Linked DNA regions of Homo sapiens. The protein of the gene in region 2 purifies or fractionates together with the protein of the main gene of each other region. This does not show direct contact. Each region holds a gene or a part of one and is shown on either strand. Other genes may lie near its edges. The genes, in order: SEPTIN6, HK2, PYGL, TRIM36 and SEPTIN10.

Region 1 (5,908 bases), on a different chromosome or scaffold from region 2:
GCAGCTAAAGGAAATTCTGAATATGTGACTCTTAGATCCAACCACCATCTCTCAAGAAGAAATACTACTACCACCATTTCTGCCCTCAAAACTCACTACCGTGACTATGGGAGGAGGGTAGCACAGGTCTAACGGTGGCTCTTCCAGAAGTTAACAAATTGCTCATGAAATTACATAAGAAGCCAAGATTCAGGGCCACTTCTGCATCTGGAAGTACAGAAGAAGACAGGTCATTCTGTTAGGCCCTTATTGCTAATATAAGGTGCCACATGCCAGCAGGGTTTTCACCCATTTCAGAATTGGAAAGGGGCACTGTCACCAACCCCAAATATTCCTGAAGAGTAGAGAGGGGTATCTCCCTGTTGGGGTCTCCTGCCTGGGGTGGGAGAAGTCAGTCAGTATGAGGCAACAAGGGGAAAGCTTGATGTAAGAAGAACTTTTACTGAACATCTGAATAGGGAATATTTATAGTTTCATTGTAGCCTGAACAAACCAATTCCTAACTCCCACAAGCAGGCTATGAAACTGCCCCAGGTACTGAGTTAACAAATACCACAGGACTATGAAGGCAGCAGGTTACAGCTGGATGACAAATTTAGATTTTTCTGATCTTAAAAATAGGAATTCATTCCTGCTGGTGCAACTAATACACCATGACAGATAAGTTAATACAGTACAGGGTGTGTCCAAAGAGACTTTTTTCTGGCTAGTTGAACTTTATCCATCAGGTAATACCAAAAAATTTCATTCATCAGTGAATTTGACATATAGTATTAAGATTCAGTAAGAAAAATTTCTGGACTAATTGGTGAAGATGTTCTTTTTTTTTTTTTAGACAAAGTCTCACTCTGTCACCCAGGCTGAAGTGCAGTGGCATGATCTTGGTTCTGCAACCTCCACCTCCCAGGCTCAAGTGATTCTCCTGCCTTAGCCTCCTGAGTAGCTGGGACTACAGGTGTGGGCCACCATGCCCAGCTAATTTTTGTATTTTTAGTAGAGACGGGGTTTCGCCATGTTGCCCAGGCTGGTCTCAAACTCCTGACCTCAGGTGATCTGCCTGCGTCAGTTTCCCAAAGTGCTGGGATTACAGGCGTGAGCCACCGTACCCGGCCAAGATGTTTAAATTACACATTTGCATAAAGAGTAATTGGATTGCAAAGCTGAATGCCTTCAAATATAACATATTTTACTGTTATGCAAAAGTTACCATGTTATTCCTAAGTGATAAGCCAGAGGAAAGGAAGGTGTTTCTTCCTTCTGGCAAAAATATCCCATAGTTAAGTCCAGGAACAAATGGCTGAAAACAGAAGGCAATGACCATGGACACCTTTTGGATCCTCAGTACCCTTCAGTAAAGACACAGCTAAACAGTCCACCTGGGAACTCCTCAAGCCACACTGCACAAACAACTGCAGGGCACAAGGGCACCACAGGAGTTTTTCTAGATCCCGTTGAAATATTTTTCTCCAGTTCTGGGATGAGGAATGGGTAACTTCAGCAAGCAGAGACTGGGGTTGGGTGAGGATTATTGACCCACATGGTATCCAGGAGCCACTGTTCTAATACCAGGGGAGATCAGAAGGTCTTACAGTCATTCCACAGATTGAGGATGGGGCACATGCAGCATACACTGGCATCTGAGGGCTCCCCCATAAGTTCTCAGCACCCCAGGCTAGGCAGAACTAAGCCAGCAGGGAGGGATCACAAAGGGGTGGGAAATCAGGGCTGAGCTGCAGCCTTCACTGGCAGCAGTTAAATTCTGTTGGCTGCAGAGAGTAATAACTGAGGCAGGGTGAGGGTGGGACTACGGCCATGGAGAGGTGAGCAACCTCAGATATAGGGCAAGGGTGGGGAGAGGGTGCACCGAGTTTCTGCTAAAGGCTCTCTCTTTCTTCCACTATCCTGTATCTGCACTTCTTTTTTTTTTTTTTTTTTTTTTTTTTGAGACAGAGTCTCAATCTGTCGCCCAGGCTGGAGTGCAATGGTGCTATCTTAGCTCACTGCAACCTCTGCCTCCTCAGTTCAGGCAATTCTCCTGCTCAGCCTCCCAAGTAGCTGGGATTACAGGCGCACGCCACCACGCCTGGCTAATTTTTTGTATTGTTAGTGGAGACAAGGTTTCATCATGTAGGCCAGGCTGGTCTCGAACTCCTGAACTCAAGTGATCCACCCGCCTTGGCCTCCCAAAGTGCTGGGATTACACCACGCCCGGCCCGTAGCTGCAGTTCTTTTTGTTCCTCTCTTTCTTTTCTATTTTTTTTTTTTTCAGATGGAGTCTCACTCCGTTGCCCAGGCTGGAGTGCAGTGGTGTGATCTCAGCTTACTGTAACCTACACCTCCCGGGTTCAAGTGATTCTCCTGCCTCAGCCTCCTGAGTAGTTGGGACTACAGGCAGCTAATTTCTGTATTTTTTTTTTTTTTTTAGATGGAGTCTCGCTCTGTCGCCCAAGCTGGAGGGCAGTGGTGCGATCTCAACTCACTGCAACCTCTGCCTCCTGGGTTCAAGCAATTCTCCTGCCTCAGCCTCCTGAGTAGCTGGGATTATAAGCGCGCGCCACCGCGCCTGGCTAATTTTTGTATTTTTAGTAGAGACAGGGTTTCACCATGTTGTTCAGGCTGGTCTTGAACTCTTTTTTTTTTTTTTTTTTTGAGACGGAGTCTCGCTCTGTCGCCCAGGCTGGAGTGCAGTGGCACGATCTCTGCTCACTGCAAGCTCCGCCTCCCAGGTTCACCCCATTCTCCTGCCTCAGCCTCCCGAGTAGCTGGGACTACAGGCACCCACCACCACACCCAGCTAATTTTTTTGTATTTTTAGTAGAGATGGGGTTTCACTGTGTTAACCAGGATGGTCTCGATCTCCTGACCTTGTGATCTGCCTGCCTCGGCCTCCCAAAGTGCTGGGATTACAGGTGTGAGCCACCGTGCCCAGCCTATTTTTTTTTTCTTTTTTTTTTAAGCAGAGACGGGGTTTCGCCATATAGGCCAGGCTGGTCTTGGACTCCTGACCTCAAGTGTTCCTCCTGCCTTGGCTTCCCAAAGTGCTGGGATTATAGGTGTGAGCCACCGTGCCCGGCCTTGTTCCTCTCTTATATTGCTGCACCTCTAATTTTTTTCTTCCCTTCTGCTCTCTCACTCTCCTTTGCTTTTCCTCTTTTCCCTTCCTTTCCTATGGACCTTGAGTTTGCAGGGCTTTCCTGAGCAAGCTGGACAGATGGGCTGGGCCTCTGGGACCACACCCCTCTGCTACTCTCAACTCCCCAAGCTCAGGGAATCCAAAGGTGCCACAGGGATGCTGGGACCAGTTATAGGTACCTCAACCAGTCTGACAGCCCACAGCTCACCTCTGGTCACCAGTCCTCAGCCCCTTCAGGTGCCACGTCCTGCCCTGGGAGGATGAGCAGGAGGAAAGAGAAGGCACCACCCCAGAGCAGCCTGCTACTTACTTTTTCTTCTCTTTGTCTCTCTTCAGAGTCTGTGAGCCTCCAGCCTGGGAGCCCTGGGACTGGAGCAGCTCAGCCGCCGTCTTTCTTTGCTTGAAAGCATTCACTTCATCATCCAGGGATTTCTTCTTATCCTCCAGTTTCTTCTTCTCGTCCTGGTGCAGTTTCTTCAGACGGTCAAACTTCTCGTGCAGCTGGCAGGGAAGCACAGGGAGATTGGAGAGAATCCCCTGTGAGCAGTCCCCAGCCTGGCCAAGCCCAGGTGGGTGGGGACCAGTAGGGCTGTGACCCTGCAGGACCCTGGAACCTCAGGGGGCATTTCTGTCAGGGATTGCTATGATGGCACCAAAGGCACCATGCTCTGGATCGTTCTCTCTTCCTGCCATTTTATCTCCAAGTCTCTGCTCCTGAATATGGTAAAGGAATACTGCATTGTGTTTAGTCAGACATTTTGTTAAAAAGAGTCCCCATAGTTACCACACATGGTCAATAATAACATCAATTATAATAATATAACATTTACTGAGTGCTGGCCGGGCTCAGGCCTGTAATCCTAGCACTCTGGGAGGCCAAGGTGGGCAGATTACTTGAGGTCAGGTGTTCGACACCAGCCTGGCCAACATGGTGAAACCCCGTCTCTACTAAAAATACAAAAATTAGCCAGGCATTGTGGCATGTGCCTGTAGTCCCAGCTACTCAGCAGGCTGAGGCAGAAGAATCACCTGAACCCAGGAGGCGGAGGTTGCAGTGAGCCAAGATTGTGCCACTGGACTCCAGCCTGGGCAACAGAGGAAGACTCCGTCTCAAAAAATAAAAAAAGAAATTACCGAGTAATTACAGGCTAAGCACTGACTTTTATAAGTCCTTTATGTATATTAATTTATTTAATTGTTACCACATTCCTATGAGGTAGGTTCCGTTATTATCTCCATTTTATGAGGAAACAGAAGGTCTGAGAAGTAAGGAATTTGACTATGGTCAACCCAGTATTTAGAACATTATATAATGGGACCTCTTATGTGTAAGGAACCCCTGTCTTTTCTTAACCCCTGCAATCAGGAAGGATCACCATGGATCTCAGAGAAAACTTCAGTATGGGAAAGCCAGTCAAGGAAATACTTGGCTTTGGACATGGAAGGAAATAAAAAGGACTTTATGACATGGAATGAGTACAGACACCTCAGCCTTAACTAAAGGGAGGCTTAATTAGTCCTGAATAGAACCAGAAACCCAAAGAAGAACAAGAAGAATATTCTGGGCCAGGCACAGTGGCTCACGCCTGTAATACCAGCACTTTGGGAGTGCTGTAATCCCAGTAGTCGGCTCAATCCCAGCACTTTGGGAGGCCAAGGTGGGTGGCATAAGGTCAGGAGTTCTAGACCAGCATGGCCAACATGGTGAAACCTCGTCTCTACTAAAAATACAAAAATGAGCTGGGCGTGGTGACGCTTGCCTATAATCCCAGCTACTTGGGAGGCTGAGACAGGAGAATCACTTGAACCCGGGAGGCGGAGCTTTCAGTGAGCCGAGATCGCACCACTGCACTCCAGCCTGGGCAAGAGTGAGACTCTGTCTCGGAAAAAAAAAAAAAGAATATTCTGGCATGCCATTGTGGTAAGTGGATCAGAGAACAAGAGGCACAGACAGTCACAAACTAGAATGCAATAAACTACCCTGAATAGTAAGAGCAGAGCAAGCCGAATTTCACTTTCTTTCATGGATTCAGGAGAGAGTTTAGGATTCTGTAGCACTTGCAGCATACGATGAAGAAGGTTAGTTCTCCGGGTCCTGGGGGTATTTGGCACTGTCACTTAGGTGGGTGAGTGACAGACTTGCTGTATAAACCAGATCTTTTCTTTTTTCTTTTCTTTTTTTTTTTTTTTTGAGACAGAGTCTCGCTCTGTCGCCCAAGCTGGAGTGCAGTGGCACAATCTCGGCTCACTGCAACCTCCGCCTCCCAGGTTCAAGTGATTCTCCTGCCTCGGCCTCCCAAGTAGCTGGGACTACAGGCACGTGCTACCACTCCTGGCTAATTTTTTGTATTTTTAGTAGAGACGGGGTTTCACTGAGTTAGCCAGGATGGTCTCGATCTCCTGACCTTGTCATCCGCCCACCTTGGCCTCCCAAAGTGTTGGGATTACAGGCATGAGCCACCACGCCTGGCCTAAAGCAGCTCTTACTAGTCACTAGGGCTGCCTATCAATTGCCTTAACCTGGTTTTTGTTTGTTGCACTTTTATTCATTTGTCTTTGAGATCCCCTCACTTCTCCTCCTAAAAGTGCTGGGTGACATTTTTGTTTTTTTTATTGAGACAGAGTCTCACTCTGTCACGCAGGCTGGAATGCAGTGGCCTCGATCTCTCGGCTGAAGCATTCCTCCTACCTCAGCCTCCTGGGTAGCTGGGACTACAGGCACGTGCAACCATGCCTGGCTAATTTTTTGTATTTGTAATTATTTTTTTTTTTTGA
Region 2 (5,908 bases):
ATGCACAGGACCTTGTGACACTGGGGCTGGCCCCTTGCTCAATTCTGACAGTAGGTGGTGCTCGGCGCTGGAAGATGGAGGAGGGAGAGGATTTGCTCCTGTCTGCATCACCCAAGAGATGCTCTTCAGCCTGTCAGCAGCAGGTGCTTCAACTTTCTACTTGTTTCTCCTTAGAGTGCCAGACCTAGGGTCTAGTATTCTCCCACCTGTTCTCCTAGGCTTTTGGGTGGGAGATGCTTCTTACATTTACTAACTCAGAACTTTCCAGGTGCATTCGACAAGAAACCCTTTCCAAGAAAACCTCCTTTATTAACATCTCACGAGAACCGGCGTCCTGGGAGATGCCATTGTGGAAGCTCTGATCACTTGTTGCCATCCAGTCCTGGGATACACTTAACAGGGCCCCAGTTGGGTGCCTACCTCTGCTTGCCGGGGTTGAGTGAAAGCTCATCCACAGCCACATCAAATTCTGTGCGGAAGTCATCTAGGCATCCATTGTCCCCGAAGGCCCCCCATTCCATGTTCACACACATCCGCCCCTCTTCTCCTTCCACCAGTTCCACGTTGCGCATCTCCTCCATGTAGCAGGCATTGCTGCCCGTGCCTGCCAATCACAGGATACCAGGGCCTCACTCAGCACCAACCCCTCCACACCCAAGGCTGTGCATCCCCATGTGGAAAGGACAGTCTGGGTCCTTACCAACAATGAGGCCAACTTCACAGTGAGGGTCTTCAAAGCCACAGGTCATCATAGTTCCGACTGTGTCGTTCACCACAGCAACCACATCCAGGTCAAACTCCTGAGAGGGAAGAAGCAGATGCCCAGTTCACAGGTGAACCCCAATATTCTCCTTTCAGACAATTGCATGGGAGATTTACAGGTATATAAAATATATATCATACACCATGGCTGACCCTCTCATTCCATTCAGGTCTGTGCTTAAATGTCACCTCTTTGGTGAGACCCTCCCAAGTTGTGCTATTTAACAGTGCCCCTTTCCAGCACACTTGCTCCATCTGCTCTCCTCACCCCACTTCACTCCTTTTCTTTCTTTTTTTTTTTTAAACTCTATATGGTCTAAAAAGGGAAGGCATGAATAATACACCCCTTGTTTAGCATATAATCAAGAAATAACCATAAAAATGTGCAACCAGCAGCCCTCATGGCTGTTTTGCTTATGGAGTGGCCATTCTTTTATTCCTTTACTGTGTGTGTGTGTGTGTGTGTGTGTGTGTGTGTGTGTGTGTTTCACAGCTCTTAACAGCACCTGCCACTAGGTCATGGACTTTATAGAACAAAGCTTTGTTGTGGTCACTCCTGAACCGCCAGTGCTGAGAGCATTGCTTGACACACAGTGCACACTAAACTGCTGAACGACGCTTGAGTTAATCTTCCTCCCAACCCATGCAGCCACACTTACTGTTGCCTTCACTTTCTGAACACACAGACCAGGCCAATCATTGAGGAGCTGACACATCAGACCTCGTGCCATGTGTCTCCTACCTCTCGCCGGTGGATCGCTTCCTTCAGCAGGGTCACCACGTCCTCGCCCTCGCAGCCAGATGCCTTGAAGCCTTTTGTCCACTTGAGGAGGATGCTCTAAAAATCACACACAAGCATGGAAAGGACATCAGGGAAGAGCTCCCAGGTCAGTTCTGGGGGTCCAGCTGTGCTTCTAGCTCTCAACCTCACAGGTCAGACGGATCCCCCAGAGTCACCAATCATCTCACCCGCAAATTAAACTGTTCCTAAGGTACTTACTTGGATTTATTGAGCACCTACTGTGTAGCAGGTACTGGGCTAAGCATAGATCATGCATTACATTATTTAACCCTCACAGCACCCTTGTGGAACATCTATCATGTTTATGGCCACTTTATAAGAAACTGAGGCTCTGGAGTGACTTGCTCAAGGCCTACAGCTTGGAAGAGAGAAGCAGGATGCACTCCGAGGCCCTCCGACCCCAGTGAATGGGCTCATAAGCACCACGCAGCTGACCCTGCTGTGCAACTTCTTCCTATGTGCTTGGTTCGCTCACTGGGCAAAGCAGTTTGCTCTGTCCCTATCCTTTACATCAGAAGGGTCAGTGTATGTCTCCTAATTTTCAAACTCCAGCATCTGGCGAACAAGTGCTTTGCCCACAGCTGGGTGACAGCTAGGCTTCACCACCACCCCATGTCTTTCAGTGAGGAAAACAACTCCAGGCTCCTCCTCAGCATCCTCAGTGGCCCCTTGCCTTCAATGTGGTCCTCTGGGAGCAGATGCTTGACGGCTTTGAACCTGGGAGAAATGCTTTGGGTTTTATTCCCTGATGCCCTCTCTGCTGCCACAGCCCACCAGGAAACAAGCCTCAGGGCTTCAGACTCCTTACCCAAGAGCTCGGCTTCCATAAATGAGCTGTGTGCTCATAACCCACCCACTTGCATGATTTCTCCAGGCCTTGCTCAGGGATTCATGCCCATCAGCTTGGCATTTCATTCACATCAACCTGGAGGTGTCACACTGTGTTCAGACCCCAGGAGATTCAGAAAAACAAAGCACATACCCTCAGAGAGCTGGCTGACCAGTGTGTGCTGATCTCCACCCAGCTCTCTACAAGTTAGCTTCACATGTTTGACGCAAGTTTGTGTTTACGGGATGTTCAAATAACATAATTTCAGGTGATCCTTACTGATGAGGCAAGTGGAGGCCCAACAGCTGGGAAACACAGCTGGGGGCCACAGAGCCCTGGGGTCTCTAACCCCAGGGGCCTCTGCACTGGTGGGATTTCCCCATCACAGGAGGGTCTTGCCAGAGCCCACAGGAAGAAATGACTTCTGCTTTATTTGCTCTTAATTTTTACGGCTCTAGACCTAACACGTGCTCCTCAGAGAAACCTGGAACACAGAATAAAACCTAATCCAATGGCCTGGAATCTCACAATTCAGACAGAAACAGTTAACACACATTCTGGTTTCCCTGGCAAATATATAAATAAATATATAACCTGTTGGCATGAAAAGTTAAGATAGTATCTACTTGAAAATATTTTGGTAGGAAGTCTAGAAGAAGGATATACACTGGAGGGTTATGCTTTTATCATCCCATTAATTGTATTTTATGTTTTTTTATAAAGAGATTACCATTTCTAAAGAAAAGTAGTTTTAAAACTTTTTAGTCATATCACCAGTAATTTTTCATGTGATTAAAATTTATTACAAATAACTAGTGGCTGATACTAGCTAATAAGTGGGTCATAATTTATTTAACTACTATCTCACTATTCAGCAAGTTTGTTTCTAATATCTTTGTTATAATAAGTAATGGTCCATTAAATAGTACATAAGAATTTGTCCACATGAGGCATAAAGCAACGCTAGTCTGGTTAACACTACATGAATGTTAATAGGTGTTGAGAAATGCCAGACTAAGCTGAGTTTTTATTGCAGAACTTCCTAAAACCTTAATTATACTAGTGCACATGGGGAATTCTCTCAGATAAGGAGGAGAAGGAGGCATCTACAAAACTCAGTGAAGCCAAGGTGAGGGCCACTGTTGCAGGGACCCTGTGGGAAATGCTGCTCTTTCCTTGTCACTAGGGTAGGCTCTTCTGCGCTGGCCCAGCTCTTTCTGTCACTTGCTCCCACCTACATGACCCTCTCCACAATGGGCAGCCTGCTCACCTTTCTTTCCCATCAACTCATTCTTCTGACTTGTTCCAAGTCCTCCTGACATCCCCCAGGTATGCACTCGGATTAACATCTGTCTCACTACCTGTCCTGGGGGCTTCAGTATCCATCCCACGAGGGCCACATTCCAAACAGCAGCTCTTCCTTTTCTGAGCTTGCTTCATCAGCCCAGCTTGTTTGTAAGCATCTAAAGGTAGGAGCCATGCCTTTTATACCTAGCAGTGGCATGTGCAACATACCACACACCGGCAGCGTGCACGTGCACTCCTACATGACTGAGACAGAGACACAACTGCTTAAAAACAGTCTCCAGATACCTAATGCTTAGGGCTACCAGTCATCAGCAGATCCAGCACTGCCTACTCAGTTCTCCTCCACTTCTCGGGGCACTCATGTCCAGAACATCTGGGAGTGCCAGATCCTCATGCACCTACTTCATTCACCCAAGGTAACCTGAAGAGGAGTGAGAAGCAAGATGAGACCAGAGAAGAGCCAGGGCATCCAAACAACAGGATATGGCATGAAAATGCCCTGAGCCCATAACAAGGGCCTCAGGAGCCCCACAGCATAACTGACAGCACAGGCTCAGGCATCAGGAACCCAGAATCCAAATCTTGGCTTGGCCAGTCCCAAGCTATTATGACCTGGAGCAAGACACCCAGCACCTCTGTGGGGCTTATCTTCCTTTCTGTAGAATGGGTATTCAAACATATCTCTTATATGGTTGCTGTGAGGGTTAAACGAGATAATGCAGGTAAGAAACCTAACATAGTACCTGGCACACAGTAAGTGCTTAAAAATGCTATATATATATATATAAGTTCAATAGAGATGGGGTCTTCCTATGTTGCCTAGGCTAGTCTTGAAATCCTGGCCTCAAGTAATCCTCCTGCCTCAGCCTCCCAAAGTGCTGAGATTACAGGTATGAGTCACCACACCCGGCAGTTGTTAACATTGAGTAGCATCATCATCGTTGTCCCAAAGGCTGTCACAGCTGAGCTAACCTACTTAACCTCCACCAGCCTCAACTTACTCATTCCCATCAAGGAGCCCCTCCCCACTACTGGTAACTCACGCCCTCCTTTCCTTAGTCTTAGCTCAACTTTCTCCCCTGCTCCATACCTGGCTGGTTTTGTTTAGAGTCAATAAAGCCCACAGGAGAGCCCTCCAGGAAGGTGCTGTTACCTCGTCCAGGCTGTTCTGCTGGCAGGGGAAGGAGAAGGTAAAACCCAGAGGCAGGGACACGCCCTTCATGCCCATGTACTCGAGGAAGTCCGCGATGCACTGGACAATGTGGTCAAAGAGCTGCAGGGAGAAGTTAGGACACTGAGGGAGGGGCCCTGGGCAGGGCAGGCTGCCCCCAGTAGGGCCTGCGCACAACATCAATGTTTCTTTCCACCCAGAAGAAATGCAGGCTCAGGCACAAACCTGAGTCAAGACCAGGCTGCAGCCCTGGGTCCAGCTAGCCCTCCCCAGGGTCACAGATGAGCAGAGAAAGCACTGTCCTCGAAGGCAAGAGGTGACGTCCACCAGGGGCCCCCTCCTGAAGGCGCCGCCCTGCTCACCTCGTCCCCGGTGCCGTGCATGACCTCCTGCGGGATGGCGTAGATCTTGTTGTGCATCTCCACTCCACCCCACTTCCCATTCCGAACACGGACCAGCAGGACCCGGAAATTTGTTCCTCCAAGGTCCAAGGCCAAGAAGTCCCCTTTCTCTGGAAAATAAGCCCAGGGAAGTGATAAGTTGGGGCAGAACATGGGGAATGTGGAGACAGTACACTTAAAACGATCCAAATACACCATTCCTGTTCCATCAAATGCCACTTTATATTACATTCTAGAATACAGAAGGAACAGAAGAGTCCAGCTCCCTGAAGGAAGCTGAAGGGAAATCTTTTAAACTGAGAAAACCCTCCCTTGTTGGACAATTACAGTGTGCCACATGCTTCACACACAGTCCTCGTTCAACCCTTAGGCAGCCCTGTGAGGGAGACACTGCATTCCTCTCTTAAGGATGATTGGGATCTGGCTGATAGTTAAATCACTTGCCCGGGGCCATACGACCAGGACAGGGTAGAGCAGGGACCAAATCCCAGTCTGTCTCTGGAACCTGTAACAACTGTGCTACACTGGCCTGCTCATCGACTGTCTTCTCTGAATTGGAATAAGACCACCATTTCTGAGGTTACAAGACTTACAGCAGGGGTCAGAAATCTTTTTCTGTAAAGGCCCAGACAGCA
Region 3 (5,908 bases), on a different chromosome or scaffold from region 2:
ACATAAAATATATCATACCATAAAAAAGAAATTATTTCCATAAAAAGCAAAATGCATCTGTCAAGAAAGCAGCAGGCCTTTTCAGAGTATAGTCATGCCCCCACTCAACACGTAACACTGTTCTTACAAAGGCAGATTTGGAGAAGGCTGATGAAAATTCCACATGCTGGGAAGATTTTTAAAGGTTGATGGGCTTTTAATTTTTGAGTCTCTTCAAGGAAGATTTGCAGGCGTGGAGTGTTCATCGTGCACCCCCTGAAATTGTGTTGCTAAAATTCTATATTTACCATCTCCTCTCATGGGGAGTGCAGTAACAGTCCTCTATGAAAATAGCTGGCCTAGGAGGAAGTGGGGAGAAAGACAATTGCAACAACCTCACAGAAGTTTCACAATCACACCAAAGCCCTGGGTGGAAAGGCACTCACAGTATGTATCTCGGAGCTGGATCCAAGTGGCTTCTGCAACCCTTCTCTTGCCTCTTAGCACCCACACCAAGTTCGTAATAGCCAGTCATGCGTGATTCACATTACCCAGCAAGCTTCTAATTATCACTGTGGAATTCTTGGTGTGCCACAGAAACATTTATCAGTTATTATAACATCAGAAAGCCAAGTTCATGGGCTCTCCTGATGACTGTTCACTGGTTCTTTGTCGACTCTGTATCCCACAGGTGCAGAGAAGAGCATTTCTTAGAATTCAGTCAACAGAGTCCCCTGGGCTGACCTCTCCATCCCTGCTGGCTGGGACAGATTCCATTGAGTCATTCCTCTAAAGAAATGCCTAGTCCAGCTGCCACCTGCACCCAGGTTGGCTCTTTTACTCCACAGATCCACGCTTGCTTTCTTCAGCCCCGTGCAGCCTCTGGGATGAAACAGCTCTGACAGCTCACTTGGATGTAGATGAAAGTTCTCCCACCTTGGCCCCCCACCCCTACCCCTTCATATGATTGGCATGTTAGTGCATTTGGGGATCACTGGCTACATGGAAACCTAAATTTACAGATCAATTTGTCAATTCATTGGAAGAAAGCAAGGTAGAGAGAAGGTTTATCACCATCTTGCAGCTTCTGTAGATTTAGTGGAGGCAGCAAGGGATAGTTCTCTCCTCCTCAGATCTACTCAGGTCAACTTGTTATGAAACGCTTGTTTCTCAATCTACCTTAAAAACAAGCCTTATAAAATTGATAGAATTATTCACCAATTCTTTATTGAATCAGCGGGAGATTCACAATAAAGAACAGCAAGCAAATAAACTCTCCTACGAGTTGTTAGCCCCATGAAGCTAAAACCAATCATTTACTTGGCAGGAAAAAAATTCAACCAACATTTGATGGCATTAAGAATCTCATGTAAGAGTGTACCCTCAAAAGAGCAAATGTGGCTTATCGTGGTGGCTCACGCCTGTAATCCCAGCACTTTAGGAGGCCGAGGCAGGCAGATCACTTGAGGTCAGGAGTTCAAGATCAGCCTGGTCAACATGGTGAAACCCCGTCTCTACTAAAAATACAAAAATTAGTTGTGTGTGGTGGCGGGCACCTGTAATCCCAGGTACTTGGGAGGCTGAGGCAGGAGAATCACTTGAATCTGGGAGGCATATGTTGCAGTGAGCCAAGATTGTGCCACTGGACTCCAGCCTGGGCGACAGAGCAAAACTGTGTCTCAAAGAAAATGAAAATAAAAATAAAAAGAGTAAATGCAACCTCTGACTTCCACAGGAGTCAGGGACTGAGCCCACAGGAGGAAGTTCAGTGCCCATCCTCTCTTATCTGAGCATTTCAGGCTTCTTGGGGGCAGGACAGTATATCATCCTGCTGCATTTCTCAGCAAAAAAATATGTCATCAGTTCTCCCATGGTCATGAGTTTTCAGAGGAAAACTGTTTCTGCCTCATCGTCTTCCTATTTCATACAATACCTTCAGATGGGTTTTACAACAGCCCTGCATGCTGAAATGAGGCAAACAGGCCTATGGTTCTTTCCTGTTACAGGAAGCAGTGTTCACATTGCTCAGTATTTTAAAACCCAAAATTGGCCCTTGCCTAAGTGCAGCATAAAGTATTTTGTAAGTCAAGATGTTTTGATCCTTTGTTGATGTCATCATTTTATTTATTATAGCATTTCTAGTTATGAACCCAAGTTAATGGACTTTTTCTTTTTTTTTTTTTTTTTTTTTTTTTTTTGAGACAGAGTCTCACTCTGTCTCCCAGGCTGGAGTGCAGTGGCACAATCTCTGCTCTCTGCAACCTCTGCCTCCCAGGTTCAAGTGATTCTTTTGCCTCAGCCTCCTGAGTAGCTGGGATTACAGGTGCCCGCCACCATGCCCGGCTAATTTTCATATTTTTAGTAGAGACGGGGTTTCACCATGTTGGCCAGGCTGGTCTCAAACTCCTGACCTCATGATCAGCCCACCTCGGCCTCCCAAAGTGCTGGGATTACAGGCGTTGCCACCACGCCTGGCCAAGTTAATGGACTCTTTAACAAGCTTCTTGACAACTGGCAAACTTCAACTGTTTCTTTATTAAAATTTTATTTTATTTTATTTTACTTTATTTTTTGAGATGGAGTCTCACTCTGTCACCCAGGGTGGAGTACAGTGGCATGATCACAGCTCACTGTAGCCCTGACCTCCCGGGCTCAAGCAATCCTCCCACCTCAGCTTCCTGAGTAGCTGGGACTACAGGTGCACACCACCACACTCGGCTAATTTTTAAATTTTTTTTAGAGATAGGTTCTCACTATGTTGCCCAGGCTGCTCTCAAACTCCTGGGATCAAGTGACCTTCCTGCCTCAAAAAAATTTTATCTTTGTTCTCTTATGACTGGGATAGCGGAAGTTTAGTTTTTAATTCTGAATTACAGATTACAGTTATTGACTTTGCATTGCCTTGTAGCTCTTGGCTGCTCTTTGTGGGGTTCAGGGACCAGTAGAATCAGGAGCCCCTGGGAGCTTATTAGGAATGCAGAATTTCAGGCCCCTCCCCAGACCTACTGAGAATCTGCATTTTAAGAAGATGTGACTTTCTGACGAGCTCAGATCTCTCTCCAGCCTTCCCTAGGGTTCATCTTGCATCTGATACCTCCTCCTTCCTCCAGTGGCTCTCTAACTCCTAGCTCTTCCAACTAAAGATGTTGTTGCTATGAGTCCCATTTCCATTCATCATTACACTGGTAGTTAATATTAGTGGGAAGCTTACTGGCTTTCTTGATAAACAACACTATCAAAATTTGAATAAGTGAACTTGTATTCATTTCTCTGGCTGTTGACAATAATGGTTAGTCTAAATTCTCAAAAGATAGTGGCTGTGTTTATTTTTGTCTCTTCACACTGTTCCTGAGACAGGCATTACACTCATGTTTAGGTGATCATGAGATGTCCAACATTGTGTTGTAATTCTTAAGCAGTATCTTCTAAAACTAAAGCTGAGTTTTCTAAGAGGTGAATATGAGGTATCAAATAGGTAAAATAACCATATTGGAGATTATCTCATTGACAAAGCTGCTTTGTTTACCCCCTTCTGGCCAGAACACAATTCCATTTTTTAATGTATAGTCATGCACCACATAATGACATTTCAGTCAACAATACAACACATATGCAATAGTGGTCCCATAAGATGGTAATGGAGCTGCCCCCTGTGGGTGTACCATTTCTTATGTTTTATACTGAATTTTTACTGTACTATTTCTATGTTTAGATATACAAACACCATCGTGTTACCATTACCTATAGTATTCAGCACAGTAACGTGCTGTACAGGTTTGTAGTCTAGGAGCAGGAGGCCATACCATATAGCTCAGGTGTGTAGTAGGCAGCACCATCTGGGTTTGTGTAAGTGCACTCTGTGATGTTTGCACAATGACAACGTTGCTTAAGAACACATTTTTCAGAATGTATCCCTGTCGTTAAGCAATCCACAACTGTATGTGTCATATTTTAAAGGTTTCAATAATTTAAAAATACATCCCCCTCCAATGTGTTTGGTGGTGGTGGTGTTCTTATTTTGATGTGTTTGTTTGTTTGTTGCAAATGAAAATGTATTTGATGTCCAGGATATCCTAAATAGAAACCATAGTTTAAAATCGTATATAAGAAATATTTTGTTATAAATTGACATAAATACCTAGGAAAATATTGAAATTGTCAATAAAATAAGTTCATTACCTCTTGGAATATGTTATTTTCAAAATAAACTATAATCTATAGTTCATTATCAAATCAAAATTACATAAGGATTGAGATAAGCAAAGACTACATAATGCAATAATGTTCTGTACCTATACCAATAAGCTTGATTAAAAGAGTGTTCTGTAAGTAGCATTTTCTAACTGATTCTGTATATTCTAGCCACAAGAATCTTGACTGAACCCTTTGTGTAGGACTCAACAGGCCCAGGTATCCAACGATAAACATCCCTGTAAGGCGTCTGTCTTTAGCTGAAGCTGGACAATTGGATTCACAGACGTTAAGACAGAGGCTCTGGAACACAGAGACCTAAGGGCAGATCTTATCTCTATCGTTTACTGTTTGACCTTGAGATCTTATCTCTACCGTTTACTATTTGACCTTGAGCAGTTACAATTCCTCATCTTTAAAAGAGGATTAAATGCAGTAATACATATAAAATATTTAGAGCTGTATTAGCGAGTATTATTGTTGATGTAGGCTGTAAAAAAGTTACAAAACAGTACTCAGTATTCATAAGTTGTTTCAGTTAAAGATGTTTTAAATTTAATATAATATAATTGAAGTGCTAGGTTCATATTTCCTGACAAATAAATTCTAAGCAATACTGTATCCTTTTGCAGGTAGAAGAAGCAGATGATTGGCTCAGATATGGAAACCCTTGGGAGAAGTCCCGCCCAGAATTCATGCTGCCTGTGCACTTCTATGGAAAAGTAGAACACACCAACACCGGGACCAAGTGGATTGACACTCAAGTATTCAGAGTGCTCGTATAGCCAGCGTTTTGTATAGTATTTAGTACAGTAGATAATACATTGACTATGTAGCATATAGTGGTGATATTGAGTATAGGGCATGTCGTGTTTTGAATAATAGAATATATTTTTGTAAATAAATCTGTTACTTCTCTTAGCGCAGCCCAGTCATTTTGGAGACAAAGGAGCTGAGGCCAAGAGAGGAGTGACTTTTATAAGGGTCATTTTGCAACCAGCTTTGTCAGAAAATTGTCAGTTCTTTTTTTTTTTTTTTTTTTTTTGCCAGAAAATTGTCAGTTCTATAGTAACCAGCATGCTTACCTCTTTGGTTTTATATTAAGGTGTTGATAGCAAAATTGAATAATTTGAAATGTCATTCCTGGCTGGGTGCAGTGGCTCACAACTGTAATCCCAGCACTTTGGGAAGCCGAAGCGGGCAGATCACCTGAGGTCAGGAGTTCAAGACCAGCCTGGCCAACATGGTGAATCCCTATCTGTACTAAAAATACGAAAATTAGCCAGGAGTGGTGGCCCATGCCTATAGTCCCAGCTACATGGGAGGCTGAGGCAGGAGAATCGCTTGAACCTAGGAGGTGGAGGTTGCAGTGAGCTGAGATCATGTCGCTGCACTCCAGCCTGGGTAACAGAGTGAGACTCTGTCTCAAAAAAAATAAAATAAAATAAAATAAAAATAAAAGTTTGCAGTTTACACAATCAATCCTGGAAGCATTTTATTTACACTGTGGGTCCCACTGCTGAGCTAACTTGCATTTACAAAACACCTCTAGATACTGTCATAATGTATCCAGAAATTCAATTAGAGAGAGTGTGTGTTTCTGGGCCAACAGAGGCAAGGTTAGGGGGCAGAGGTAATATAAGTGAGCTGGCCCAAGCCATGCAACTTAGCCTCATAGATTGAAGTCATCACATGAATTAACCCCAAACTGGTACCCAGTGATGTCAGAGCATGAGTC
Region 4 (6,549 bases), on a different chromosome or scaffold from region 2:
TGAGTGAAGAGTTAAATCTTGTATACCTAACTCCATCCCTTACTTCTCCACAATGGTTATCATATTTTGTGCTCTATTCCAGATGCTTATTTTTGTTTGCCTGTAATCAGATATACCTAGTTTTTTGGCCAGAGTGGCAGCATTCAGAATCCTTATGGTTTTGTACTTTTTTTTTTTTTTGAGACAGAGTCTCGCTCTGTCGCCAAGGCTGGAGTGCAGTGGCACGATCTTGGCTCACTGCAACCTCTGCCTCCCGGTTTCAAGTGATTCTCCTGCCTCAGCCTCCTGAGTAGCTGGGATTACAGGCGTGTGCCACCACGCCAGGCTAATTTTTGTATTTTTAGTAAAGGGGGGGTTTCACCATGTTGGCCAGGCTGGTCTCGAATTCCCGACCTCAGGTGATCCACCTGCCTCGGCCTCCCAAAGCGCTGGGATTACAGGTGTGGGCCACTGCACACATTATATTTTAGAAATCCTTTCTCATCAGTACATTGATTTTAACTGCTGCATAGTATTCCATGGTATGAATGTATATTATGCATGATGTTTAGTTATAAATAAGGTCTCAATAAGCTCTTTGTACATGTTTTTGTGCACACATGCAAGTATTACAGTAGGAACATTCTTAGATGTGGAATTGCTTAGTCAAAAGGTAAAAATATTTAAAATTTTTGATAGGATTTGTAAAATGTCCCTTGAGATAAGCTGTACCAACATACGATATCACAAAAAGGTTTGAGCAAAATAAGAGAGGCTTTGTAAATCTTGTATTTTTGATAGAGAAATAGGCAATGATACCATTACTTGGTGAATTATTAAACTTTGAACATATTTGAGGCACAAAAATATTCAAAAATTTTTACAAACACAAAATTAAAACAAGAAGACACTTATACTCTGAAAGAATTAGGCTTAGAAAGTCCTCAAATCTAGACTAATATAAGGTCTTAAACATCTCATGGGACCAAAACAAAAATACCACCAAATGATCTGTTTCAGAAGGATGAATAGATAGTTGCTCACACAACTAAAACCTGTGCTGGGGTGATAATGGTAAGGTTGTGCCCACTGCATAAGTATTTTTATTTTTTTGGAGACACAGTTTTGCCAAGTGTATTAACACTTGCCAAGTATATTAACATCATGTTTGAATTTTGTGGATCAGGTAGAAAATGATAGCTCAGTGAAGTCTGATTTGCAAAATGGAAGGCCATAGCAATGTATTTTCACCAAAATATTGTCTATACAGATTTTATCTTTAATTCCTGTTAATGGAGCCTTCTAATCACTTTTACTGTGTCAACTAATAAGTTTTGGATCAAAGCAGGTGTGCGGATGTGAAATTACAGCCCAAGGGGAATTATTTAGCTCAAAGGCCAGTATGAGAAAGACTTATAATGCTTTCTAATGGTTGAGCCTTTAAATATATGTATATATATATAGGCACCTAATTCACGCAGGCATTTGTTAGTCTCCTCCTGATTAGCACTTTTCAGAACCTGTGGGAAGGAAGCCTTCCCAAGTCTAGCACCTGCGGCCACGCAACGGGCATTAATCCGGATCAGAACAGCCCAGGCATTATTACCTGGCAAAGCTTTCGTCCTCTGTTCACCTCATCTGTAAATGGAGGGTATTCCATTAGAGAAAATTGCTATAGTCCCTCAGTGTTTTTAATTCTACACTCCTTATTTAGATGCCGGATTGGAGACGAGGCTACCGCTGCAGACAGGGCTGTGGGAAGACGACGGAACTTGCCACAGCGACAGACTTCTCCCAAACAGGAAATAAAAGTGGGAAGCATTTTAAAACCTAAACGAGATGTCTCGCTACAGCTCTGTAGTCCCTACTTACCCAGCAATTTAGGGCATCTGTTCTTAAAGCCTAATACATAGGAATGAATTGTTTAGCTAGCCAGAAAGGCAGTGCGTGATCTAATAATCCTAAATTAATTTGTTCTCCGTGTGTCCTGAAAACAACACCAGAAACACACTTGGGCCGTGGCAGGTGAAATGTGCGCCGCCAGTCCTTGAGCTGGCGCGCGCCTTAACGTTCAGCAGCACTCCCCGCGGGGGTGCGGGGGTGCCGGAGCCGCTCAGGACCCTCTGTCCTGGCCCTCAGGAAGGAAAGCGTAGGCCCGGGTGGCGGGGGGTCTCTCCCTTGCCGCGGCCTTTTAACTTCAGTCCCTGGCCAGCATCCGGGAGAGGAATCTCCACCCTGCAGGCGGTCCCCGCGCTACTGGGCAAGAACGTGCGGTGACATCGCGACTTGGGGGTATAGAAGCAGAAAGCGGGATATGACTGCTCGGTGCCCAGTCAGGGACTATTAAGTTCACCCAGCAAGTGAAGCCAGAAGAGAACTGGGACAAGCCGGGCGGGGCCAGGGAACCCCAGGCCGCGCCTGGCTAGGGACCGCGGAGAGGGCGGGCGGGGTCTCACTCTGGTCGCCTCGCGCAGCTCTGCCGTGCTCGCCGCGGCCATTCAGGGAAGGTGGCTTAGGCTCGCCCTCGCCCGCACCGTCCTGTGCCGAGCCTGGAAGCGGGGCTTCGAACCGCGAGTGAAGAAAGCGCAGTGAGAGCAAACTGAAGGGCGGAATGGCAGCGCAGGGCCAGGGGCCAGGGGCCAGGGCTGCAGCCGGCTGCTCTGCTGCAGCGGAGCCTCCCCGCCCCGGCGCCGCCCTCGGCACCCGCCCACCGCTCCCCGCTGCCCTCACTTCCGTTCCTCAGAGCCCCCCAGCCTGGCATAGGGCGACGGGCGACTACCCGGGTGGGAGGGAGGGGCTGATGCGTAGGGGGAAGGTGGCGGCGGAGGGCGCCGAGTCCCAACCGCGTGCCACACCCACGCCCAGCCGAGTCCCGCTCAGCCTACCACTCAGACACCCGGCCTACCAGCCCCAGGCGGCCCCGCCTCTTTTGTGCGACTGGCGCTGTTGCCTGGGCAACGACCAGGCCACGCCCTGTCCACGCCCCGCGGTGCCCCGCCCAGGTCTCTGCGCGGCGCCGTTCCCAGCCGCAGTCCGCAGGAGCCGCTGCTGCAGCCGGCAGCTGGGCGGGATTCCCGGGGTAGTCGCTGGGAGCAAAGCTCGCTTCTCCCGCGCCTGTGCTTTTGCCTGCCCCGGCTTACTTCTCCCCGCGTCGGTCCGCTGGCCACGTACAGCTGACCAGCTCATCTTCCAGCTTCGGACCGAGGCTCCACGGCCGCCGCAGGGACCCGCCCACCAGACCCTGCGCTCGGTAGCCGGTGTGAGTGGAACGTGCCGCTGATGACACCTGGCAGAAGGCAGCCATGGAGGGCGATGGCTCAGATTCGCCGGTGAGTGCGGAGGGGACCGCCGCCCCCACCTCGAGGGCGGTGTGCCGACCGCGGCTCTTTCTCTTTCCTCCGCCGGGAGCCCGGAGGGAGCCTCCTCCCGGGAGAGCAAAGGCAGGCGTGTGGGGATCCCGCTTCCTCTTCGCCTTCTCCCGCCCGGGGCTAGGTTCCGCAATCCGGGGCGTCCCCTTTCTATCCCCGAGAGCCGGACGTGGGGTCCCCTGGGCCGGAGAAGAGCGCAAATCCGATGGTTGCCCACCTGAGCACCTCGGGGGAATCATGGAGGGTCTCTCTAATGGAGCTCAGGCTGTAGAATTAATTAGCGTTTGGGAGTCGGGTGCGGGCAGAAAGCTGGGGCGCGTCCCTCGCGCTTGCGGGGCCGCCCTTTGTCTAGGCGTCTTGACCCCCGCGGGCCCGGCCGGCTGCCGCCGCCTGGGCCAGAGGCTCCTCCCCGGCTTCGCCTGCCCGCGGGGGGCGGGCCGGGGCCCCGGCAGCTGTCAGCCTACAAGTGTTTTTGTTTAAAGGTGTCGAATGTGCAATTCTTCCGAAGTTTCTCGAGGAACTGCTTAATTGAGGGAGCCGCCACATCACACTTAATCAGTTTGTTTCTCCCTCAATGACAGATGAACTAAATTTTCTCTTGGGTAAGAAATACTTTATGTCCATTGTGATTAAAAAGTCAGATTCAAGACACTGCTTTATGTACAAGAAAATGGAAATGATTTTAGATCCTCCCCCAGTGACAAGTAAACCTGAACTGACCATATTTATACATAAAATGGAATGTAAGAACCTATTTTGGATATCCCGGACAAGATTTTCTTTTGAATTAGGTGCCAAACCCTTTGTGAAATGAGATAGGATGTGAATATTCTGTATTCTTTGATGTGAATTGTGAGGTTTAGTTATCTTATTTCCAAATCTGTGAACAGTTGGGAGGTGATATGGCTCTTCATCACATATTTGAGTGATGCAGCAAGAGACTGCATCGAAACACCCACTGACAATGATAAAACCAGTTGGCTCTAATGCAGTTAAATTGTCAGAGATTATTGAAGCACTTGGTGTCACTTTAGGGAGAATAGGTTAGCATACATTTTAAAATTTCATTACATTTAGTTAAGTCAATTTTAATTTTCTGTGTATTTCTAGTAGCTGAAATGATTGTACAAGGTTATAAGTACTTTGAAGTTGGGCTGTCTTTAAAATTGCAGGGATGCTGACTATAGGATTCATAGATATGAAGTCTGGGATACATGGAAAAAACTACGTAGAGAAATGATGGGGAAACTGGTATGAGGTCATCAAACTTTTTTAGTTGTGATGAGTCTAAAATGCTTCTCACTTAAAATAATGAAAGGCTGTAGTATTGAGAGCAGTTGTAGTGGTGCTTATACACCTTTTTAAAGGGTCCCCTACATTCTTTTAATATTCTGTTATGGTTAGGCTTTGTGTCCACACCCAAATCTCATCTTGAATTGTAATCCCCAGGTGTTGAGGGAGAGACCTGGTGGGAGGTGATTGGATCGTGGGAGTGGTTTCCCCCATGCTGTTTTCGTGATAGTGAATTCTCCCAATATCTGATGGTTTTATAAGGCAGTATTCTCTGTTCTTACTCCCTCTCGCCTGCTGCCATGTAAAACGTGCTTGCTTCCCTTCCTGCCATATTTGTAAGTTTCCTGAGGCCTCTCCAGCCATGCAGAACTGTGAGTCAATTAAATCTCTTTTCTTTATAAATTAGCCACTCTTGGGTATTTCTTTATAACACTGTGAAAAGGGACTAACACAGAGAATTGGTACCAAGGTAGTGGGCACTGCTGTAAAGATACCCAACAATGTGGAAGTGACTTTGGAACTGAATAACAGGCAGAGATTGGAACAGTTTGGAGGGCTCAGAAGAAGACAGGAAGATGTGGGAAAGTTTGGAACTTCCTAGAGACTTGTTGAATGGTTTTGACCAAAATTCTGCTAGTGGTATGGACAAAGAAGTGCAGGCCAAGGTGGTCTCAGATGGAGATGAGGAACTTGTCGGAAACTGGAGTGAAGGTGACTCTTGCTATGCTTTAGCAAAGAGACTGGCAGTGTTTTGCCCCTGTCCTAGAGATTTGTGAAGCTTTGAACTTGAGAGAGATGAAGCGGAGCGTAAAAGTTTGGAAAATTTGCAGCCTTACCATGGAGTAGAAAGGAAAAACCTATTTTCTGGGGAGGGATTCAAGCTAGCTGCAGAAATTTGCTTAAGTAAAAAAGACTCAAATGTTAATTGCCAAGACTATGGGTAAAATGTCTCCAGGACATGTCAGAGATCTTGGCAGCAGTCCCTCCGTTTGGCAGGGCCAAACAGGTGCATTAATGAAGAGAGCCCCATCACAGGCCTGGAGGCCTAGGAGAGAAAAATGTTTTAGTGGAGTGGGCCCAGGGCCCTGCTGCTGTGTGCAGCCTCGGTATCACAGGATCCTTAGGGTGTCGCTTCACCAGCCAGAAACCTCTGTGGCAAGTGTTGCCTTTGCCCAAGTTTTGCTCAGGCCCACTGGGCTTGTTCTGCCCACTTGACCCAGCAGGCTGTGCTTGGTTTTCACTACTGGCCCAGATCCCACGGCTGCCAACGGCAAGCCAGGTGCAGAGCAGCAAGGGGTGCATGAGTGAGCGAGCGCGGGGTACAGTGTGCACAGCCAGGCATGGTGGCTGTGGCGGGGCAGGCAGGTCCAGGTGCCAGTATGGGCGCCGGCTCCTTGCTGTGGCTGGAACAGGTGTACCACAAGTGGCTCCCACTACAAGCACTGTGGAACATGGTGGCACCCAGAAACTTGGAGATGCCGGCAACTGCAGAGCCACAAAGAGGATGTCACAGCCCTGGCTTGGGGAGCTCCTAAGTCCAGGCTCCCTGAAGGGCTGCAGCTCTTCTCTCCTCTCTTGTCTCCTCATCGTCACCCACAACATGGCGAGCAGCAGGGTGTATTTGACACAGTTTGTGTTACAGCTTGTTTGGTCCTGCCATTTGGCAGGTCCAGAGTTCCTGTACTGTGTCCAGGAAGAATGAGCTACATGGACAACTGGAGGGTGAACAAGGTGCTTTATTGAGCAAAAGAGTAGCTCTCAGGAGACCTGTCATGGGTAGCTGCTTTCTGCAGGCAGTTCCTCCCGACAACTGCAGCTCTCAGCAGAGAAGAGACCCGGAGTGGGTACCTCCTCTCTGCAGGCAGGTCATTTTGTCGAGTGTGCAGTCCTCAGTGGAGAGGAGACCCAA
Region 5 (5,908 bases), about 35 Mb from region 2:
CTTATTTCACACAGTACTTGAAAGTCCTGGCCAGAGAAGTCAGGCAAGAGACAGAAATAAAAGGCATCCAAATAGGAAAAGAAAAAGTCAAATTATCTCTCTGCAGACAATATAATTTCATACCTAGACAACTCTAAAGACTCCGCCAAATGGCTCCTGAACTGATATACAACTTCAGTGAAGTTTCAAGATGCAAAACCAATGTACAAAAATCAGCAGCATTTCTGTATATCAATAATGGTCAAGCTGAGAGCCGTATCAAGAACACAATGCCATGTACAACAGACACACACACACACACACACACACACACACACACACACTCACTCTCACGCAAAAACCTAGGAATATATCTAACCAAGGAGGTGAAAGGTATCTGCAAAGAGAACTACAAAACACTGCTGAAAGAAATCACAGATGACACCGACAAACTGAAAAAATGCTCATGGAATCAATATAGTTGGAAGAATCAATATAGTTAAAACGGCCATACTACCCAAAGCAATCTACAGACTCAACGCTATTGCTGTTTTTTTGTTTTGTTTTTGAGAAGGTATCACTCTGTCCACCCAGGCTGGAAGGGCAGTGGCATGATCACGGCTCACTGCAGCTTCGACTTCCCAGGCTCAAGTGATAGTCCCACTTCAGCCTCCCGAGTAGCTGGCAGTATAGGTGCCCACCAACATGCCTGGTTAATTTTTTAAAATTTTTTGTAGAGACGAGGTCCCACCATGTTGCCCAGGCTAGTCTCAAGACTCCTGAGCAAGCGATCCTCTCTCCTTGACCTCCCAGAGTGCTAGGATTACAGGCGTAAGGCACCACAACTGGCCTCAATGCTATTTCTATCAAACTACCAATGTCATTTTTCACAGAATTAGAAAAAACTATTCTAAAATTCATAAAGAAACAAAAAAGAGACTGAATAGCCAAAGCAATACTAAGCAAAAGAACAAAGCCTGAGGAATCACATTACCTGACTTCAAACTATACTATAAGGCTACAGTAACCAAGACAGCATGGTTGTGGTATAAAAACAGACAAATAGACCAATGGAATAGAACAGAGAACCTAGAAATAAAGCCGCACACCTACAGGCATCTGATCTTCAACAAAGCTGACAAAAATAAGCAATGGGGAAAGGACTCTCTATTCAATAAATGGTGCTAGGATAACTGGCTAGCCATATGCAGAAGAATGAAACTGGACCCCTATGTTTTACCATAAACAAAAATTAACTCAAGATGGATTAAAGACTGAAATGTAAGACCTCAAATAAAAGAATCCTGGAAGAAAACCTAGAAAGCACCATGCTGCACATTGGCCTTGGAAAAGAATTTACGATTAAGTCCTGAAAAGCAAATGCAACAAAAACAAAAATTGCCAATTAAACTAAAGAGCTTCTACATAGCAAAACAAACCATCATCAGAGTAAACAGACAACCTACAGAATGGGAGAAAATTTTTACAAACTATGCATCCAACAATAGTCTAGCAGCCAGAATCTGTAAGAAACTAACAACTAAACAAGGAAAAAACAACCCCATTAAAAAGTGGCCAAAAGACATGGACATACAAGCAGCCAACAAACATGACAAAACGCTCAACATAACTCATCATTAGAGAAATGCAAATCAAAACCACAATGAGATACCATCTCACAACAGTCAGAATGGCTATTATTAAAAAGTCAAAACACAACAGATACTGGCGGGGCTGTAGAGAAAAGGAAATGCTTGTACCCTGCTGGTGGGAATGTAAATTAATGCAGCCACTGTGGAAAGCAGTTTGGAGATTTCTCAAAGAACTTAAACCAGAACTACCATTCGACCCAGCTATTCCAACTTGGAATATATCCAAAAGAAAATACCTCATTCTACCAAAAAGACACATGTACTCATATGTTTCATCATAGCTCTATTCACAATAGCAAAGACATGGAATCAACCTAGCTGCCCATCAACGTGGACTGGATAAAACAAGTGTGGTACATACCTACCATGGACTACTACACAGCCATAAAAAAGAACAAAATCAAGTCTTTTGTACCAACATGGATGAAGCTGGAGGCCGTTATCCTAAGCAAATTAACTCAGGAACAAAAAACCAAATACCATATGTTCTCACTTATAAGTAAGTGGGATCTAAACATTGGGTACACATGGATATAAAGATGGCAACAACAGACACTGGGACTACTAGAGTGGGAAGGAAGATACCCGGTAAAGGCTGAAAAACTAACTATTGGTACTATGCTCACTACCTGGGTAATTGGATCACTTGTACCCCAAACCTCAGCATCACACAATATACCCATGTAATAAACCTGCAAATGTACCCCAAATCTAAACGAAAAATTGAAATTATTTTTTAAAAGGAAAAAAATTACTTACAAAAATGGAAATAAGACTGGGCGCAGTTGCTCACGCCTGTAATCCTAGCACTTCGGGAGGCCGAGGTGGGTAGATCACCTGAGGTCAGGAGGTCGAGACCAGCCTGGCCAACAAGGTGAAACCCGTCTCTACTAAAAACACAAAAAAAATTAGGTGTGGTGGCAGGTGCCTGTAATCCTAGCTACTCGGGAGGCTGAGGCAGGATAACCGCTTGAACTGGGGAGGTGGAGGTTGCAGTGAGTCGAAATCATGCCACTGCACTCCAGACTGGGTGACAGAGCGAGACTCTGTCTCAAAAAAAAAAAAAAAAAAAAAAATTGAAACACATTTCAAAAAGGAAAACGAACAAAAAGTTATTGCTTTACCAATCCTTTTCCCCCTTTCATAGTTTAAATTTGATAGAGCATAGAATCTCTACTCAATCTTTATACGACCTTAGGAGAAATATTAAAACAAATAGAGACACAAGGTAAAATATAAATTAAAATTTCACTATCAAAACTTTCCTGCAATGATTAATAATGTAACTGGCTAATTTGATTATAATTTTACAAAAAATTCAAGCATCATGTATTTGGCCATTGTATATATTGTTCTTATATGTCTTGTATTTTTTTTCTTCAAGGAGATAAGCCCTGCCTGAAAATTAGTATAATTAATATACACTGAATTTGCATGTCAGGAAATAATTAAAGCTACTTTTGCTGAAATGCACATTTTAATAAGGTGATTCAAATTATTCTAAAGAAATTAGACAAATGGCTAGAAAAATGTCAATGTGCTAATAAGAACAAAATATTGTTTAATTATTTTATTTTTAAAACAATGTGTGGAAGGAAAGGTATGGATTACCATAGGAGAAAATCAAATCATAGTTCATGGGGCTATAAGGCGAATGTCTTGAAATAAGAAAAACTTGTTTTATTACAAGAAGAAAACACATACCTCTCTTCTTTATTTATTTGGTCACCAAATCCCACTGTATTCACAATGGTCAATTTCAATTGAACATTACTTTCCTGGAGTTCATATGTCTGAGCTTTAAGTTTAACATTTGGGCAAAAATGTGAGGATTCATAGTCTTCAAAATTAGTATTAAACAATGTGTCAATCAGTGTTGATTTTCCAATTCCAGTTTCCCCTGAAACACACAAAGGTACATCTTTATGGTTGCATGAATGGCTGAAAAGAAATACAACTGTAAATGCCTAGAGTGGTTTCAAAGATCCCAAATATTTCAAAGGCCAGGGTGCGCATGAAAGAAATACACACTACGGCTGGTCCCCCAAGTCATTAGCAGAGCATAGAGTAAGTGTGCTAAGCTACTCAGGACTCTGACAACAACACTGAGATGTTTATATAACAAGCCAAAAGCTTAAAGCTAAGAAAAACAAAACTAACAGAATCTAAACAACTAAAGAGAATCCCTGGGATCATGATTTCAAATTGATAACATGAGCATTGTTCTGCCCATGACAAGAATGAAGTGAGCACAAGGAATATGAAGGAACAACTTAGAGGAAGAGTAGGTGGCACGTACCCACACAGAGAATATTAAAGCAGAAACCTTGCTGAATGGATCTGTTCACCAGCTGATCAGGCAAACTCTCAAAACCAACATGGCCAGACATAGTCAACGAACGAATGTTTTCTCTTTTCTGAAGGAAAATAAAAACAAAAACAACAGCAATAAAAAAAACAACTTTGACTTAAATAGGATGTAGGCACACTTGAAGGACAAATATATCAAATAAATGAAAATTTTTATAATCATTATACCTCACCTAAGATACAAGCGATTAAGTAAATTTTCAGGAAAAGAAACCTGTGTCCAGATCCTCAAAACATACATTTCTTATCCCCTTCATACAACGAGAGTCTAGCACTATGTATAACATTAAAACATTCGATTTCCAAAATAGGAAAATATCCAACTATGGCATATTCACTTACAAAATAAAAAGTTAAAGTCCATTTGTTTATGATAAAAACTTAGAAAATTCTTACATTAAAATGTCAAGTGAAAAAAAAGCACAAAACAAAAGTACAGATACAGGTTCAGCTCCTGGTAATGGCAGAGTAACTTAGGTCAAACTTACCTGCCTACTGGTAACAATTACAAGCAACCCTTTTAAGTCACTAGAGTGCAACCAAAGGCAGATAGACACTGGACAGAATAAGACTTGAGGGAAGGAAACTTATCAGGTGAGATGAGTTTATCTAGCTTTTTCCCTGAAGGCACTCCCTAGTCATTATGGCAAAAGGAAGATAGAGCTCAGGAGGGAAGTTATAGTCTTAATGGGTTAAGATGTCCATTGGAGATTGGGGCAGGCAGATTGGTTGGGAATTCAGGGAGAAAATTCCAGAAAGAAGGGAGTCCAAAATCTACAAACACACTCCACTCAAATCCATGGCTGATGGCCAAACTGCACACATACAGAGGGAATACAAAGATCCCAGAAGGGGGAAAATGGGAATTGGGAGGAGCTATGCAGAGTTTTCAAGTGCCATCTTGGAGAGATGGACAGAGCTTAAATTTTAAGCCTGTAAGTTAAAGAGTCTCCTGTAAACACCCTAGGCCTTCTACTGAAACCCTAGATGGGCCACATTTTAGGAGTAAGGTCCATAACTCAGCAATCAGAAAGCACAGCTGAAGCAGACCTGCCTTAACAAAGCCTGTAACAAGGCTCAACATGATCAATGTGATCAGTCAGCAATTTAATTGCCTGTTAGAACAAAGTTCAAGACTCTGCAGAAGAAGAAAACAGAATCTAGCATCTCTACAGTATCTACTATACAATAAAAAAATTATGACAGGAAAAAAACAGAAAAATGTGATTCACAGTCAAGAAAGAAAGTCAACAGAAAGAGAGCCACAATGAACCAGATGTTTAATTAGCAGGTAAGAACTTTAAATAATGATAACAAATATGCTAAAGAATCTACAGGAAAAAGATGGATATAATGGGTGGCATGACGGGGAATTACAGAAAGATATGAAAGAGCTCGCAACGACAAAAAGCAGCAGACAGAATTTCTAGAATGTAAAAATGCAACATCTGAAGTAAAAAATATATTTAGTACTAACAGCAGATCAAATAATGGAAGACAGATTTGTTCAATAGTTATTATCCAAGCTAAAAATCTCACAGAAAGAAAAAAGATAAAACTATGACAGTCTTAAAAACTTGTGTGAGAGTATCAAATGATCTAACATACCAGTAATTGGAATACAAGGAGAAAAGTTAGAGAAAGAGAGAAGGTGAAAGTGGGGGGTAGGAGGGAGGGAAAAAAATATCTAAATAATAGTGACTGAAAACTTTCTAATTTTCTAAACTTGAACTCAGAGATACAAGAATTTCAGCAAACTACAAACAGGAAATATCCAAAGGAACTCACATCTAGGGACATCACAGCAAACTGCTAAAAAACAAGGATAATGAAAACTTTAGGCCTGGTGTGGTGGCTCACGCCTGTAATCCCAGCACTTTGGGAGGCCGAGGCGGGTGGATAACAAG

Evidence for each region.
Region 1: the proteins of HK2 (region 2) and SEPTIN6 fractionate together in Homo sapiens (co-fractionation; one large-scale study listed by BioGRID). This does not show direct contact.
Region 3: the proteins of HK2 (region 2) and PYGL fractionate together in Homo sapiens (co-fractionation; one large-scale study listed by BioGRID). This does not show direct contact.
Region 4: the proteins of HK2 (region 2) and TRIM36 purify together in Homo sapiens (affinity purification with western blotting; one study listed by BioGRID). This does not show direct contact.
Region 5: the proteins of HK2 (region 2) and SEPTIN10 fractionate together in Homo sapiens (co-fractionation; one large-scale study listed by BioGRID). This does not show direct contact.

The regions. Positions count from the first base shown.
Region 1 is NC_000023.11:119,625,875-119,631,782, forward strand, and holds part of SEPTIN6 (septin-6), read right to left. Parts: intron 3,635-5,908; coding exon 3,444-3,634; intron 1-3,443. UniProt on the Homo sapiens protein: Filament-forming cytoskeletal GTPase. Required for normal organization of the actin cytoskeleton. Involved in cytokinesis. May play a role in HCV RNA replication.
Region 2 is NC_000002.12:74,881,186-74,887,093, reverse strand, and holds part of HK2 (hexokinase-2), read right to left. Parts: intron 5,384-5,908; coding exon 5,235-5,383; intron 4,975-5,234; coding exon 4,855-4,974; coding exon of another isoform or gene 4,792-4,854; intron 1,601-4,791; coding exon 1,505-1,600; intron 801-1,504; coding exon 701-800; intron 605-700; coding exon 421-604; intron 1-420. UniProt on the Homo sapiens protein: Catalyzes the phosphorylation of hexose, such as D-glucose and D-fructose, to hexose 6-phosphate (D-glucose 6-phosphate and D-fructose 6-phosphate, respectively).
Region 3 is NC_000014.9:50,922,995-50,928,902, reverse strand, and holds part of PYGL (glycogen phosphorylase, liver form), read left to right. Parts: intron 1-4,802; coding exon 4,803-4,934; intron 4,935-5,908. UniProt on the Homo sapiens protein: Allosteric enzyme that catalyzes the rate-limiting step in glycogen catabolism, the phosphorolytic cleavage of glycogen to produce glucose-1-phosphate, and plays a central role in maintaining cellular and organismal glucose homeostasis.
Region 4 is NC_000005.10:115,166,367-115,172,915, reverse strand, and holds the start of TRIM36 (E3 ubiquitin-protein ligase TRIM36), read left to right. Parts: upstream 1-3,007; 5' UTR 3,008-3,281; coding exon 3,282-3,308; intron 3,309-3,829; exon of another isoform or gene 3,830-3,949; intron 3,950-6,549. UniProt on the Homo sapiens protein: E3 ubiquitin-protein ligase which mediates ubiquitination and subsequent proteasomal degradation of target proteins. Involved in chromosome segregation and cell cycle regulation. May play a role in the acrosome reaction and fertilization.
Region 5 is NC_000002.12:109,581,791-109,587,698, forward strand, and holds part of SEPTIN10 (septin-10), read right to left. Parts: intron 4,049-5,908; coding exon 3,931-4,048; intron 3,532-3,930; coding exon 3,336-3,531; intron 1-3,335. UniProt on the Homo sapiens protein: Filament-forming cytoskeletal GTPase. May play a role in cytokinesis.